Regions from separate parts of the Homo sapiens genome. Here region 1 is linked to region 2. Evidence: fine-mapped expression QTL. Tissue or cell type: activated CD8 T cells. Region 2 holds a variant in brackets; the other region holds the start of a gene. All regions are shown on one strand. Distances are between the middles of the regions.

Region 1 (8,000 bases), 670 kb after region 2:
GAAAAGCATTTAGTTCTATCTAATTTCAATATGCACGTGAATTAGTTCATGTTACTCTAACAATGTATTCTTACTGTCCTTTTTTATGAAATAGGAAAGTAAAACTGAAAGAACTATTTCTTGTGTTTTTAAAACTAGCCTTTTCTAATATTTGATATCTAATTAAAGTTAGATAATATGTAATATGCTTTTGAACAATAATCTAACCAGAAAATATTGTATAATAAATTACCAAGAAATCATTACATTAATTATAAAAGGAACATGTCAATACAACAAATGTTTATTTAACACCTACTGTTACTCCAAATACTGTGTTAGAATTTGACTATTCGAAGATGAATAATAGTCTTTGCCCTCTGGAAGGCCACAATGTAGAAGTAATTCTCTGTATCAGATATTTCCTTGAGTGTTAAGTGTATTAGTAATCATGTTGTAAATCCCAGTGTAAGTCAAGAAGCAATATCACCACCACCACCTCCCTATGATTTTGTGATAATTTGGCATTTTCAATGCTTGTTAACTTTCATGTTTTCATTTTTATGAAATCATGCAGAGCTTGTTATAATTTTTAGTGGGGTTTGGATTAAAATGCTTTTTTGATGTAGCAGAAGATACATTTTTTCCCATTTTACATTGTTTTCCTTAAATATTAAGAATAATGAGTAAAATAAACTGATTTTAAAATCACCAGGAGATGCTTCATTTATTAAGTGAAACATTCAGATTAAGGAATTTTTTTCATATAATTCACACAGTACCCAGGATATTTAGTTATTTTGTGTAAAATGAAGAGACTAGATTTTATCATTTTCAAACTTTTAAAAATTATTTTTAGCAAGAAAACTTTTTAAATCTTTTTGTTTTTGAGCCAGGTTCTCACTATATTGCCCAGGCTGGACTCAAACTTTTGGGCTCAAGTAATCCTCCTGCCTCAGCCAATGGAGTAGCTGGGACTGCAGGTGCACCATCAGCTTATTTGTGTTTTCATCTGTGATAATCGGAGGATTTAAAATTCTCCACTAATATACGTGAGGATAGAAATCAAAATGCCTAATGAGTGGAAAAAAACTCATCTTTAGTGTTGAAATGGCAAGCAACTTTCAAAAGCATTTCAACTACTATTACCTTCACATTAAAAAATTAACTGATTTTGCATATTTCTAAAACCACAAAGACATTTTCCCCACACACATTCAATCCTCCATGGTTCCAATGAAATAGATAAGAAGTTAACACTTTATATTGAGGTATAGTGTTGACCCTAAAAGATTGCAAAAGACTGATAGTAAACATGCAGCAAGAAAGCTTTTTTAAACAATATATTGCTGGGCACAGTGACTCACACCTGTAATCCCAGCACTTTGGGAGGCTAAGGTGGGAGGATCACCTGAGCCCAGGAGTTCTGAGGCCAGCCTGGGCAACAAAGTAAGACCTCATCTTTACAAAGAAATTAAAAATTAGCTGGGCATGGTGGCACACGCATGTGGTCCCAATATACATGGGAGGCTGAGGCAGGAGGATCACTTGAGCCAGGGAGGTCGAGGCTGCAGTGGGCCATGTTCACATCACTGCACCATGACCTGGGCAACAAAAATATATAAATGGGCTGGGCGCAGTGGCTTACGCCTGTAATCCCAACATTCTGGCAGGCTGAGGCGGGTGGATCACCTGAGGTCAAGAGTTCCAGACCAGCCTGGCCAACATAGTGAAATCCTGTCTCTACTAAAAATACAAAAAATTAGCTGGGTGTGGTGGTGGGCACCTGTAATCCCAGCTACTCGGGAGGCTTAGGCAGGAGAATCGCTTGAACCCGGGAGGCAGAGGTTGCAGTGAGCCAAGATCACACTATCGCACTCCAGCCTGGGAAGCAAGAGCAAAACTCTGTCTCAAAAAAAAAAAAAAAAAAAAAAAAAAAAAATATATATATATATATATATATATATATATATATATGTAAAATTTATTTTAATATTTATAAATGTTGCATTTATAAAATATATAAATAATATATATTACCTGGCATTCCTCCAACTCACAAAGGTACAGTTGCTCTAATTAAAGGGACTCCTGGTTAAGCCGTGGCTTTAAGAACAGTTTGAAAACCTTCTTGCTTTTAAAAGACATAAAACAGCAAGTAAAATGGAAGGACAGACAGACCTCTAGTTTGGTTTGACTGGAGCTGTATGCTTAACTAAGGAGCTGAAAAACAGAGGCGGAGGTTGCAGTGAGCCGAGATGGTGCTACTGCACTCCAGCCTGGGCGATGGAGTGAGAGTGACTCAAAAAAAAAAAAAAAAGAAAAAGAAAAAGAAAAACAATACCTATTAATAGCCTTTATTTGTGCGTGTTAGCAACAGTTTATAATGATGCTTCCACATGCTTTCAGTTAGGCCCTCCTTGTGAATGTGACCTTCACTTAGACGCCAACTTTGAAGGGAATCAATACTACGGCCTTGTTCTCATTAGGGCTGTACTAAAATAATTGAAACTGTCACACATCATCAAACTCAAAATTTTACAATACCTTGAATGACACTGTGCTTACAAAACTGACGGTGATGTGTAATGATGACTAATGTAAGTCACCATGAAGAATTTTTATGGGAAGTAAAAATTCAATTAAGATGGAAGTACCTACCCTTGCATTGTGCAAGGCAATGAAGATCTGAAGGAAGCCTGCCTTCAAGGGCTTGGATTTTGACAGCGGACAGGTACACAAATACAGCACCAGGTAAAATACGGCCTGTATTATCATTTATGGGTGGGTACAGAGGAGAAATTCTGACTTACGGAATGATTTCCTGGAGAAGAAATTACTATCTGGCTTCTTGTGAAACAAAGGCTCTACACTTTACCCTTGCCAACGTATAGTATGAAGGTCTTTAAGCTTAAAAAAAATCATTAATTAGAGGACCACTGGGCATCATCTAAGGCAAGTGTATGACTTTAGAGTCGGGAGAAATTTGCGCCTGAGCTAGAAATGCACTAGCCTACCATTATCACAAGAGCAAGTCAGTGACAGAACAGTTCTCTGACCGCCAGTGCAGTGCCCTCCCACTTGATCAATCAGTCATTAAGGCTCACTGGCAAGCCCTTCGTACTTCTTCCCTCTCCGGCACTAGCTTCCTTAAGTCGACTCTGTGAAATACCTGCTAATCTTATCCTGAACCAGAGTTTCGACCCTCGGAACAGTCTTGCCCACATCTTTGGGACCCGATTCGTCCTGCTGATTCCGGCACTCGAGGGGCGGGTTGGTTGGAACCCACCCCACCAGGCCCCTCTCAATCCCACACGGTGTCCACCCTTGCCCGCAGGACGGCGGCCCGGAAGTGACGTAGTGGAAGCGGAAGTGGTGTAGTGGTGCCGACTTCCTGTTGTTTGAGGCCGGGTTGGGGGTGTGCGATTGTGTGGGACGGTCTGGGGCAGCCCAGCAGCGGCTGACCCTCTGCCTGCGGGGAAGGGAGTCGCCAGGCGGCCGTCATGGCGGTGTCGGAGAGCCAGCTCAAGAAAATGGTGTCCAAGGTGAGGCTGCGACGCGCTCGCCTCCCAGGGCGCGCCCACCGCTCCCTTCCGCGCCCTGTCGAGTCCGTCCCGGCCCAGCCAAGCAAGCTTCCCAGACGGGCCGGAAGCCCCGGTGCAGTCCTTAGCGACCTCCTCAGAACCCCGCCCCGAGGCGCCTGTCGCCTGGTGCGGGAATCCCCGTACGGGAGCTGGGAGGGTGGGGGACGGCGACAGTCAACAAAGGCGTGGAGCGGAGGCTACCTGACACCTGCCGCCCACCCGCCCTCCTCTCTTCCACTGAGTTTGGAGCTGTCTGTGGGGCAGTGTAGTTTTTCGTTTGTTTTTATAAACACAAACAAGGGATCATACTTAGTTGTAGATCTGAGGCAATCCTCTACTCCTGTCCCAATCTAGGGATCCTCCAGTCTTAGCCTTTCTTTTGCCGACCCGCAGAGAGTGTGGCCTTTTCAGTTTTGTATTCTCCAGAAAAGAAGCGAAAATACCAGTCCCTTACTGCCCCAGGTGAAATACATACCATTACCATTTCAGGGATTTTCTAAGAGTAACTACTTTTAAGTGTATGCTTCTTATAACGCGTATTTATTTGCTTTGAGCTTAATTTATGATCTTCACGGCTCAAGACTAGTGTTTTTTTTTTCAATTTTTAAAAAAGCAGTTAAGCATTTTGTATTTTAAAGCCATGATTTATTTATATAATTACTTCAAACGTGGCACCTCACACCAGAGTGGAATGGCTTTTGTTATGTTTTGTTGTAATTTTCCAAAACTATGTAAAATGATTGAGAGTTGAGTCTTGACCAGTTCAACGTGTTAGCTTGGGATAGTTTTGTCAAAGCAAGAATGGTAGCAATCAGCGGTTTAAGCGGTTTCAATTTTTAATAAAACACACTATTATGTGTAAAACTTTTTTAAAAACAGACTTTTTCCAGTTAAATCGCCCCCATAGTTCTTGATTGAAGACCAAATAATCTCTAAGGAGAAAATGACAGCTTTCAAAATAAAGCATATATTGGTTGTGTAATCGTATATTTTAGGCTTCTTGGTTTTGTTTTGATAAACTTGTTATCCTTAGTTATAGAAGACATATGGGAAGCCATAGAAGATTGTGACCCAGGTAAAGATCCATGTTGTAACTTTTATATATCACTTTTTGAAAAAAACGGTATATTGTTTTACATAGTATGTAACTGAAGAGTATCTGTTCCATGACTCTTTTTTTTTTTTTTTTTTTTTTAGAGTCTTGCTCTGTCACCCAGGCTGGAGTGCAGTGGCACGATCTTGGCTCACTGCAATCTCCGCCTCCCAGGTTCAAGCGATTCTCCTGCCTTAGCCTCCCAAGTAGCTGGGGATTACAGGTGCCCACCACTTCACACAGCTGATTGTTGTATTTTTAGTAGAGACGGGATTTCACCATGTTGGCCAGGCTGGTCTTAAACTCCAGACCTCAGTGATCCACCGCTTTGGCTTCCCAAAATGATGGGAATACAGGCGTGAGCCACCACACCTGGCCTCCATGACATTTTTGATCTTTAAATTGATAGCATAGTCATTAAGATTTAGTCCTTGGGCTGGGCGCAGTGGCTTACGCCTGTAATCCTAGCACTTTGGGAGGCCAAGGCGGGTGGATCACCTGAGGTCACGAGTTCAAGACCAGCCTGATCAACATGGTGAAACCCCGTCTCCTAAAATACAAAAATTAGCCGGGCATGATGGCGGGTGCCTGTAATCCCAGCCTACTCGGGAGGCTGAGATGGGAGAATCGCTTGAACCTGGGAGACGGTGGTTGCAGTGAGTCGAGATCAGGCCACTGCACTCCAGCCTGGGTGGCTGAGCAAGACTCCATCTCAAAAAAAAAAAAAAAAAGATTTATTCCTTAATGTATGTATATTCATATAAAGAGCAAGAATATTCAAATATTAGCTTATTTTTTATACCCTAATTAAGTTTCCTAAGCTTCCCTAGAGAAACCTGCCATCAAAGACAAAGGCAAGGCATGTTCAGAAGATATTTTATACCTCTACCTGCCTTCCCCTCCACCCAACCTGTGATTACTTTAGAAACAAAAACAGAGGTAGGGAAGAGGTGGGAGAGGGCATCCTACCTGCCTTTTGGTCCTTGACTCAATATCTGGAAAATTGAGACTCCTGTATGTGATTATGACGATTCTGAGCATCAGCATTAGTACTGTCCAACCTATGAATTTTAGACAGGTAAGAATAGGAAGTAAAGTAATAGAAGCAGTTGTGGGGCTCCTTCCTCCTAAAGAAGGGCTTCAAATGTTTTCCTTTCAGCTGGTGTGGTCTGATGTAAGAATTGTTAGCCAGGACCCTGAACACATAGCTAGGGTGAAGGTCATTATTGTTTTCTCTTTATCTGATTGTAGGCTCTCCACACACATCATGGTACTCTGGCCACCTGCCTTATGTTTTATGTGTTTATTATAAAAGGTCTTTTTTTCCCTTGAGCATTATCTTAGCTCCCAACTTCAACATAACTTTCAACACCTTTCTCTGTTATTTTTGCAATTAACAGATATATTTATACCAGATTAGTCCTTCTTCTTTTACAGAAACAACTTCCCACTTTAGATGTTTCATACATACAGCCACTTATATTTTTACATAGTTTATCTACAGCATTTCTAGAGGCACAGTCACTGCTAAATGAGTAGAAGAAAACTGTGGGCCTGGTGTGGTGGCTCATGCCTGTAATCCCAATACTTTGGGAGGTAGAGATGGGAGAATCCACTTGAGGCCAGGAGTTCAGGATCAGCCTGGGCAACATAGCTAGACTCTGTCTCTACAGAAAATTTAAAAATCAGCCAGACTTCGTGGCTTGCACCTGTAGTCCTAGCTACTTGAGAAGCAGAAGCAGGAGGATCACTTAAGCCCAGGAGTTCAAGGTTACAGTGAGCTATGACAGAGAACCTGTCTCAAAAAGTAAAAAATAAACATTTTAAACTATAACAAAATTGGCCAGGTGCAATGGCTCATGCCTGTAATCTCAGCACTTTGGGAGGCTGAGGTGGGCGGATCACTTGAGGTCAGGAGTTTTGGACCAGACTGGCCAAGATGGTGAAACCCCATCTCTACTAAAAATACAAAATTAGCCAGACATGGTGGCGCACGCCTGTAATCCCAGCTACTCGGGAAGCTGAGAAAGGAGAATTGCCTGAACCTGGGAGGCAGAGGTTGCAGTGAGCTGAGATCACGCCACTGCACTCCAGCCTGGGTGACAAAGCGAGAATCCATCTCAAAAACAAATAAATAAATAAAAATAATAAAATAAAGATTGATATGTCCCTCACTGTTTTAGGTTCTAGGGATGCAACAGTGAACAATCAGACAAAGAAACTGTGCTTCTGGAATTTAAATTCTTATAGAAGGCAATAAACAACTCAATAAATACATCAAGAAGTACGTTGGAAAGTGATAAGTGCTTTAGAGAAAATAAAGCAGGGAAGAAATGGGGAATGCTAGGGTGTGGAAATGGGATGAGTCACCGTTTTATATCTGATAGTAAAGAGAGGTCTTTCTGAAAAAATCTACTTGAGCTCACCTGAGAGAGGTAAAGAAACTGTGTGCTTGACATGGGGCTTACACCTGAAATCCAAACATTTTGGGAGGCGGAAGCTAGAGGATCACATTGAGGCCAGGAGTTCCAGACCAGCCTGGGCAACATAGCATGACCTTGTCTCTTCTCTACTAAAAATATAAAAAAATTAGCCAGGCGTGGTGCATACCTCTAATCCCAGCTGGTTGGGAGGCTGAGATGGGAGGATCACTTGAGCCCAGGAGTTTGAGGTTGCAGTGAGCTGTGATCACACCACTGTACTCCAGCTTGGGTGACAGAGCAAGATCCTGTCAAGAAAAAAACAAACCTGGAACAATCTGGGGTAAGAACATTTCAGAAGGAAGGAAAAACAAATGCAAAGACTCATAGACAGAAGTTTGTCATGCATGATAGAGGAACAACAAAGGAGGGTATGGTGGCTAGACTGGAGTGAGCAAGGGAGGAAAGTGGTGGTATGGGTCTAGACAGCATCAATGGTATGGGAGGTTTGGAGGGCCTTGCAGGCCATTGTAAGGACCTTGGCATTTACTTGGAGTATGATGAAAAGCCGTTGCTGTGTTTCAGCTGTTAGCAATATTACTCTAGATGCTATGCTGAGACTAGACTGTAGGGGGTTAACGATGGAGGCAGAGACACGTAAGGAGGCTGTTGCAGTAATCTAGGTGAGAGGTGCTGGTGGCTTAGACCAGGACTGTAGCTGTGGAGATTCCGGATGTATTTTGAAGGCAAAGCTAACAGGATATTTTGACAGATTTGCTGTGGATGTGAAGAAAAGAGAGGGCATCAAGGATAATGTCATGGTTTTTGGCCTGAGCACCTGGAAGGATATGTATGTATACACATATGGAAGACACTGGAGAAGTAAATTTGGGGAGAAGATGAGGAGTTCAGTTTTGGTCATGT
Region 2 (8,264 bases):
GGGAAATTGGGGATGGCCTGTGTCCTCAGTTTACATCTGGGATTAAATCTCAATGCTGGGTACATACAATTCATCACAATGCATGTAGAACTGCTTTATGATCCAGAAAATGTGAGGGAGTCTTATGACTTGGCTTTGTTCCCTTTCTGAACAACTCAGTCGTTTGTGGTCAGTGGCAATGAGCCCAGGCTATTGGGCAGGAGGTGTAGCTGAGCCCCAGGGCTTTGTGTCCTCCCTGGGGTTCAGGCAGACAGGTGCTCTGCAGCCCAGACACACGTGTCATCCATCAGAAACAGGAGACACAGGGCAAGGGGCCTCCTCCTTCGAAGGAGAGAAGGGGGGAAGGAAAGAGAGAAGGAGGGAGGGAGGAAGGGAGGAAGAGAGGAATGAAGGAAGAGGGAGCTGCAGCAGCATTCAGCCAGCAAATAGCCAAAATTCCCTTGGAGGAAGTGGAGACAGAATCTTGATAGAATAGAAACTCAGAAATCCTGGGATATTCAAGAAGAAAATAAAGATAATCAGTTATAGAGCCCGTTCAAATTATAGCTCTGAATATCACTTAACTTATCTGAGTTTCCATTTTCTGAACAATAAAACTAAGGGTAGCCTACCTCTATCAAAGGGACTTGTGAGAATTGAATGAGATAAAGTATAGGAAAGTACTTTTGTAAAGTTTAATATAACCGTACAAATATGTGAGAACGTTGAGAAAAGGCATACAGCCAAACCCAGTGGGTTTTGGGGGGGTTTCCTGCTAAGTACAAGCGTGCTGATAAAAGTCCAGAGGTCAGAGTGGGTAAGAAGCTGACCAGGAGTTAGAAGATAATTAATTTGTTTTACAAGAGGAAAGACCCAGGGCTAGGAATATAACACACAGGAAATACAAGTCTTGAGGCAGACAGATTTCCAGTTACAAGTGTGCTGTTCAGATATCTGTGAATAAATACTGTATAGAGGGTTGGGCTTCATGCACAAAGAGAAATGTGATGCCTGCAAATGTGAAAAACTGCAGTTATTCATCCCAGTGAAGAATGGCAGGAAGGGAGACAGTAATGGTCTTAAAGGGCATTGAGGATGGAGCCTTTTCTGAGCTTTACTGTGGGAAAGGGTTGATCATGATTTGATGGTCGTTTATGGCCTAGGCAGGCATGGAACGAGTACTAGCTTATTTAAGGGTCACAAAAAGTTATGCAAAACTCATTTTTCAGAGGAAGAAACTAAAGTTCTAGAAAGCTTAGGAATTGCCCAGCATCACATGGCTGAGAAAGCGGCAGAGCCAGGAGGTAAACTGGGATATGATGTGGTCTTTAGAAATAAATTGTAGAGGTCAAAATAGAACAAAGAGTGAGTTTTGGGAAGTAAAAGCTGGCCACGCTTCAGATATAATTTCACAAAAGGTGTAAGATGCCCATGTTCTACAGCCTTCATTTAATGTATGTCTACCATGTCTGAGTTTAAAAGGGGCTGAGAGCCAACACTCAGGTTTATTTCCATGCTGGCAATGAGCAACCTGTTCTTCCTGGGCTCTGTGAAAGGGCCTCTGGCCGGAGGACGTCATATATCTGGGTTCAGAAGCTCAGGAGGAAGCAGCCACTGACCTTGAATGTCCTACACCGAGAACTGAAGGGCATGAGCTCCCCAGACTACAGGGCCCCTGGCTAGGCATGCTGCCTCCAACCCAATCCAACAACGCAAGGGGACCGACTCTCACCCCGACCTGGGCACACCTGTCCTGGGGCACCGCACACTCCAAAGGCTGAAAAACAAAGCTGATTCACAGTCTGAACCAGAAGGGCCATGGAAAACAAGCAGGGAGTGAGTTGTTTGTTCTAAAAGAACAGACTTGAAAACTGGAGATAATGTAATAACAACAATAATAGTCATGATGCAAGTAACTACAATTATTCAATTCCTGCTATGTATTAAGTAATTCTATATGGTGTCTTAGCTATTATTATCTTCTTTAACCTGAAAACAACCTTCCCAGACAAGCCTTCTCATATTGTCTTTACATGAGGACATGCATTGAGGACACTGGGTCAGAGAATTTGAGCAACTTGCCCAGTGTTCAACAGTTAGTGTTTCTGAACTTAAGCTTGGTTCTTCCAAAGCCCATGGTTTTCACTGTGGCTATGTCATCTTTCTTACCCAAATTAAGAGTGAATAAAGGAGAGGGTTTGAGAGGGCACCCCATTGGGCAGCTTTTCTGCAAAGTGAGGTTTCAATCACTTTTCAGATCCTTAAATCTGTCTCAGGGCTTAAAGGACCCTTGAAGGGACTTCACTGTATAGCAGCCACTTGGACATCCGTCCCCACCTCAGCTGAAAATCAATAGTGCAGAAGAAATCTCCAGTTCCAAGGAAGCCCTTTCCATGTTGAACAGCCGTAACTCAGAAAGTCATTGATTTCAGTGAATGAATTCAGTTTCCCTGTTAGTCCCACCCTTGAATACCCTCTGTGTCCCATGGAGAGACAATGGATTGGTCACGTCTCAATTCCCATCAACTGGGAAGTCTGGGTGATGGAGGTGCTGACCCTTGTCCTCTCTCCAGTGTTATAAACAGGAGCATGAGATACAGAACCAGCTTAACGGGGGGTTAAATGGCAGCTCTTCCAATTACTAGCTGTGTGACCTTGGAAAAGCTACTTAAGCTCTTCAGTTCTCTTATCCATAAAAATGGAAATAAAATTTGCTCTGGGCAGCTGTTGTAAGTATTAAAAAATAATATATGTAAAGCAACTGACATAAAATAATATATGTAAAGCTTTGGAGTCAGAGAAACGTAAGTTCCAATCTATTCATGTGACACATATCAGTCCCATGAACTTGGACTAATGTAATTTCCCAAAGCCTCCATTTCCTCATCTGTAAAGTAAATGTTATAATAGCACCTACCTTGAAGGGTTGTTGTGAAGATTAAACGATACCCAAGGGCAGTGCTCCAGGCATGTTAACTTCAATAATAAAGTTAGAAATGACTATTACTATCGCTTAGATTCCATATATATATATATATATGTTCCTATGATCCAAAATCTTTGCTTCAGCCAGTGTAGACAATTGAACTCACTGCAGGAAATCAGGCATCTAGTAGGATGACCAACTGAGCTAGCACTGAGCTGAAAACGGTGGCATTGTGGCACTGTGGCTTGAGGTCTCTGCCCAAAGTCATGGCCTAAAGTTCCCTCCTGGGTGCTCATTTTATGTACCCACCACTTTTGCCCTAACTCATCATTGCTCAGCTTTATAGTTGGTAGTGAAAGAAGAAAGAAAGAAAGAAAGAAAGAAAGAAAGAAAGAAAGAAAGAAAGAAAGAAAGAAAGAAAGAAAGAAAGAAAGAGGAAAAGAGGGAGAGAAAGAGATGGAGAGAGGAAGGGAGGGAAGGAAAGGAAAAAGGATGGAAAGAAGGAGGGAAGGAAGGAAGGAAGGAAGGAAGGAAGGAAGGAAGGAAGGGAGGGAGGGAGGGAGGGAGGGAGGGAGGGAGGGAGGGAGGGAGGGAGGGAGAAATAGTTGGATTAGGAAGAATGTGCCCAAAATACACAGTTTAGTTATTCTTTTGAAAATTCAGATTGATGAATAACAACTTAAAATTGTGGGAGAACCTAATTGGTTCTCACATTTTATATTACTCTACAATTTACAGAATGATATGACAGTACTTGAACTAATAGG[G/T]TCCTCTCAGCAATAGTGAAATCAAAAGGATTATTGCCCTCATTCTAGTGAAGACACTGAAGTTCAGAGAGATTGAACGGTTTTCCCAGATCACACAGCTTCGAAGAGGCAAAATGGAACTAGAACTCCAGCCTCTGGCACCTGATCCAGTGTTTTTCCCACTGCCCCACTGAAGCACATTCCTAGTATAATCTCTTCTATGGTATTAGTTACATCTTAGTTTAAAAGTGGGCACAAGGTAGTCTCTCACCGGGATCTGAGTATCCAAATCTGGAGTCCAACCTCTTCCAAGTTGATGTCACAGGGCTGTCCATTCTATCTCATCCTCGTAAATTCCAGACTGTCCCCCATTTCAATCTTGACCCACGATTTGTCTTTGACAACATAGTCATCTCAGGGACTGGCCCAGAGAGTCGTGCCAGGTGGTATGATGGAGATTGTGACCCAGGTTACAAACAGGGCCGAGTGACGGGCAAGCCTATAATTGTATCCCACCTTCAATGACCCTTGCCAGTACCAGGCAACGCTGATAAACAAATGGCCCATCCCTTGGTACCTTGCCAGGGTAAGCTCACATTCTGGGAGTGTCTAGGGGAGTGTTGGGACACAAGAATTCCAAAGCAATGCGGGAAGCTGAAAAGGTTATGTTCATAAGCCAGGACCTAACTGGGATTTCAAATCATAGCTCCTTAATTAGCACATTGGTGCCATTTGAGTAACCTAAAGTGAAGTGGGAAAAAATAATTTCTCAATACTGCTTTAAATTCCATCATATTTCCATGACCTTCACAATGGTCCTGCCCAGGAGATACTATTATCAACATTTTTTACCCGAGTTCAAGGTCGAGATTAGAATCCATGTCTCTGGATTCCGAATGCCTTTTTATTTATTTATTTACTTATTTTTTCAGATGGAGTCTCACTCTGTCGCCAGGCTGGAGTGCAGTGGCGCAATCTCAGCTCACTGCAACTTCCACCTCCTGGGTTCAAGTGATTCTCCTGCCTCAGTCTCCTGAGTAGCTGGGACTACAGGTGCATGCCACCACGCCCAGCTGATTTTTGTATTTTTAGTAGAGATGGGGTTTCACCATGCTGGCCAGGATGTTCTTGATCTCTTGACCTCATGATCCATTCGCCTCGGCCTCAGTCCTGGGATTACAGGCGTGAGCCACCATGCCTGGCCTGGATTCAGGATGCTTTAAAATATCCTCTACCTTTTGGCCTGTGAGACATCTTCTGTTTAGCCTCCATGGTTACATTCCCATCTTCAGAAATGGAACTGAGCATCATTAATAGAGTACTTACAGATTTATATTTTAAATTTCAAGTCCTGATGATATATGTCAGATATTTATGATCGCTTAAAAACAACCAGTGCTAGGATACATTAGTTTGTGAAGGAGGTATTATCTGTAATCCTATTCTCATTTTGAAAAGTATGCCTAGGCAATGAATCCACACACACACACACACACACAGATATATATGTATTTTTATCCCCCAAGAGGTATCTCTGTCTCCTATTAACTTGCAAGACATGCCAATGAAATCTCCACTGCAAATCTGAAATGAGAAATTTGACCTAAGGTTGTTTTCATTGAAAATTTCTATATCATTAATTTTACAAGTGTCGCTGCCATGTTCCTGGAGGAAATTTATTATATTTCTCCTCTATTTTGTATCATGCTGAAACTCAGGATCAAAATGAACATGAGCAAAATTATGTGAGTCTATTCTTTTCTAGAAAATGTAACATCTTTAATGAGAGAAGAATGGATTGTATAAAAAGAAGTTGGCTAAGAAAAATATCCCTAAATGCTTACTTTTAAATACACCTTGGTTATAAATGAGAGGGTCCAGCAATCTTAAAAATCTATTCCAGCCCTGAAAGTCTGTAGTTTAAATGGAGTCCAAAATAAACAAATTTGGGCTATTTTAGAGGCTATTTAGGCCTCTACGCCTTTCTGCTTGCTCTTTTCTCTGCATGACTTCATTAGCATTATTCCTTCCCACTTTTCTGTATCTGGTGAACTCCTATTCACCCTTCAAACCCCCATTTGAATGTGATCTCTTCTGTGACCCTCCAACAGTTCACTGCCTTTATCCCCAGACTAAATGTGGGGAGCCAGTCCGTCATTTGAGTTTCTGTAGCATGTCTCACAAGACTCTTCTCTGGTACAGAGCATTCTGAATCTTGTCTATTTTTCTCACTACAACATGGGCTTCTCAATGCCAGGGGTCACAAACTACTCATTTTTATAAGTTTTCCCCCTTTTGTCACTGAGTACTTAGTGCAGTACTTGACACATGATAGGCAGGTAGTAAATGCAGGGTGAATGAATGAATGAACGAATGAATGTGAGTTTTAATTCTAAGTCTTTCAACTCAAAATCCATTACTCTTTCTAGTTTCCTAAACAACCCGAACTACAGAAATAGAAAAACCACATGCTTCCATTTTTTAAGAAATTCTTATTTATTTATTTTAGAGGCAGGGCCTCACTCTGTCACTTAGGCTGAAGTAGAGTGGTGTGATCATAGCTCATTGAAGCCTAGAACTCCTGAGTTCAAGTGATTCTCCTGCCTCAACCTGCTGAGTAGCTAGGACTGACTACAGGAGCATGCCACCACACCAGGGTAATTTTTTGGGGGGTGGGGTAGAGACAGGGGCCTCACTATGTTGCCCAGGCTGGTCTCAAACTCCTGGGCTAGTGATCCTCCTGCCTTGGCCTCCCAAAGTCCTGGGATTGTAAGTGTGAGCCACCATGCCCAGCCCAATGTTTCCTTTTTTAAAGTTCTTTTCTAAAATTTTACTGAATTAGCAGAAGATCCTACTTCTGTGAGAGGAAGGATAGGATGTTCCTGGCTAACCTCACAGTTTTTCTAAGCAGGAAAAGCTCTTTGGGGGAATATTTAGATAGAAACATTCCTTCTAGACCTAGTATCAGGTTCAGTGGTCTGTTTGCTATTTACTTTCTGTTTCTTAGCAAAAAACTGCCTTTGTTATGAGACTGTGAGATACAATCCGGACCAGTTGACCCAGGAGGGCTTAGTGTTAATCGCCAACTATTATAAGAAGGTGACTGGCTTCCCAGAAGGGAAAGTGAAGGTCACAAGCAGCCACTCAGAATGGCTGGATAGTGCTCCATGTCATGACACACTAGGCTTCTTAGAAACCAGAGGATCCCAGTGAAAATGCAGCTCCCCTGGGCAGCTGAATTTCAGAAGTTTCATTTAACATCAATGGCTTATTTTAGTTCTGCTTTGAGGAAACTGAAAACTTGGATTCATACTAAAAACATATGCAGATGAGGACAATTATTATTACTATTTTATTTATTTATTTATTTTTTGAGACGGAGTCTCGCTCTGTTGCCCAGGCTGGAGTGCAGTGGTACAATCTTGGTTCCCTGCAACCTCCGCCTCCTGGGTTCAAGTGATTCTCTTTCCTCAGCCTCTCAAGCAGCTGGGATTACAGGTGCCCACCACCACACCTGGCTAATTTTTGTTTAGGCCGGGCACGGTGGCTCAAGCCTGTAATTCCAGCACTTTGGAAGGCCAAGGCGGGCAGATCACTTGAGGTCAGGAGTTTGAGACCAGCCTGGCCAACATGGTGAAACCCCGTCTCTACTAAAAATACAGAGGACAATTATTTTTTTAAATAATTTTCTTTGGTTAATATCTCTTAAATGTAATCCTGTGGTGAGGAGACAATGACAGTCCTGGGGCTGTGGCTATTAGCAGCTCCTTGTAGCTGAATGTCTCCAATGGTGCAGGAGGACATGTCAGCACCATGGTCTGGCTCCTGTTGAGCACTGTGAACTCTGTGGGACCTTCCTGCACATCATGTCGTTTGATTTTCTAAAGGACACTAAAGCAGCAGGGAAAAGAATAACTGTATAGGTGGGAAAACAGGTATAAAGTTAAGCTATGTAGTTCATCCTGATATGAACAGCAGGTAGAGGGTAGCCCTGAAAGCAGAAAGCAAGTTTCCAACTACTGACCTAGTGTAGTGCCAATATATCTTATAGCCTAGGTGATTATATTCTTAAAAAGGAATGTATGGATATGAGGAATAACTTGGAATAGGAGATTTTATATATTATTAATATGCTTTTCTATCAGCAAGATAAGCTAAGATTTTGCTACCCAAAATGTAGTCCACTGCCAGCAGCATCAATATTGCCTGGAGTCTGTTAGAAATGCAGAATTTCCTGCCTCTCCCCAGATCTACCAAACCAGAATCTGCATTTAGCAAGGTCTAAGGTGATTTGAGAAGCTCTTAGCTAGACAAGAAGAAAATACCATCTTCACAGATGATTCCCAGTTCTGATGGGATAATTTTTTAAACTTGAGATGAAAAAAAAAACGATCTTTGTATATACTTTTATGTACATGAAATTAGCCTATTCATTCCTTCCGGGAGCCCTGTGAGATACATAGGAATAGATGTTACTGAAATTTAACAGGAGAAGAAACTGAGTTCCCAAGTGGTAAAGTGATTACCCAAAGCCATCTAAGTGTCTGAGCTTATTTAATGACTAGCACACAGTAGCTGTTTGCTAAATGAATGAATAAATGAAACACTAAAAA

Evidence for each region. PIP is the estimated chance that this variant, and not a neighbour inherited with it, causes the effect.
Region 1: it holds the start of TSG101, and the variant in region 2 is fine-mapped to the expression of TSG101 in activated CD8 T cells (Schmiedel 2018, PIP 0.95).

The regions. Positions count from the first base shown.
Region 1 is chr11:18,522,299-18,530,298 of GRCh38, reverse strand. It overlaps TSG101 (tumor susceptibility 101), which reads left to right and starts at 3,357. Exons shown (of 10, transcript NM_006292.4): 1 at 3,357-3,524. The coding sequence starts at 3,483. It overlaps UEVLD (UEV and lactate/malate dehyrogenase domains), which reads left to right. Exons shown (of 12, transcript NM_001040697.4): 12 at 1-690. RefSeq lists an enhancer at 3,088-3,197.
Region 2 is chr11:19,192,578-19,200,841 of GRCh38, reverse strand. All of the region lies in intron 1 of CSRP3 (cysteine and glycine rich protein 3), which reads left to right. CSRP3-AS1 (CSRP3 and E2F8 antisense RNA 1) reads right to left here and starts at 4,129. Exons shown (of 6, transcript NR_183675.1): 1 at 3,923-4,129. The variant G/T (reference allele first, on the strand shown) is at 3,673.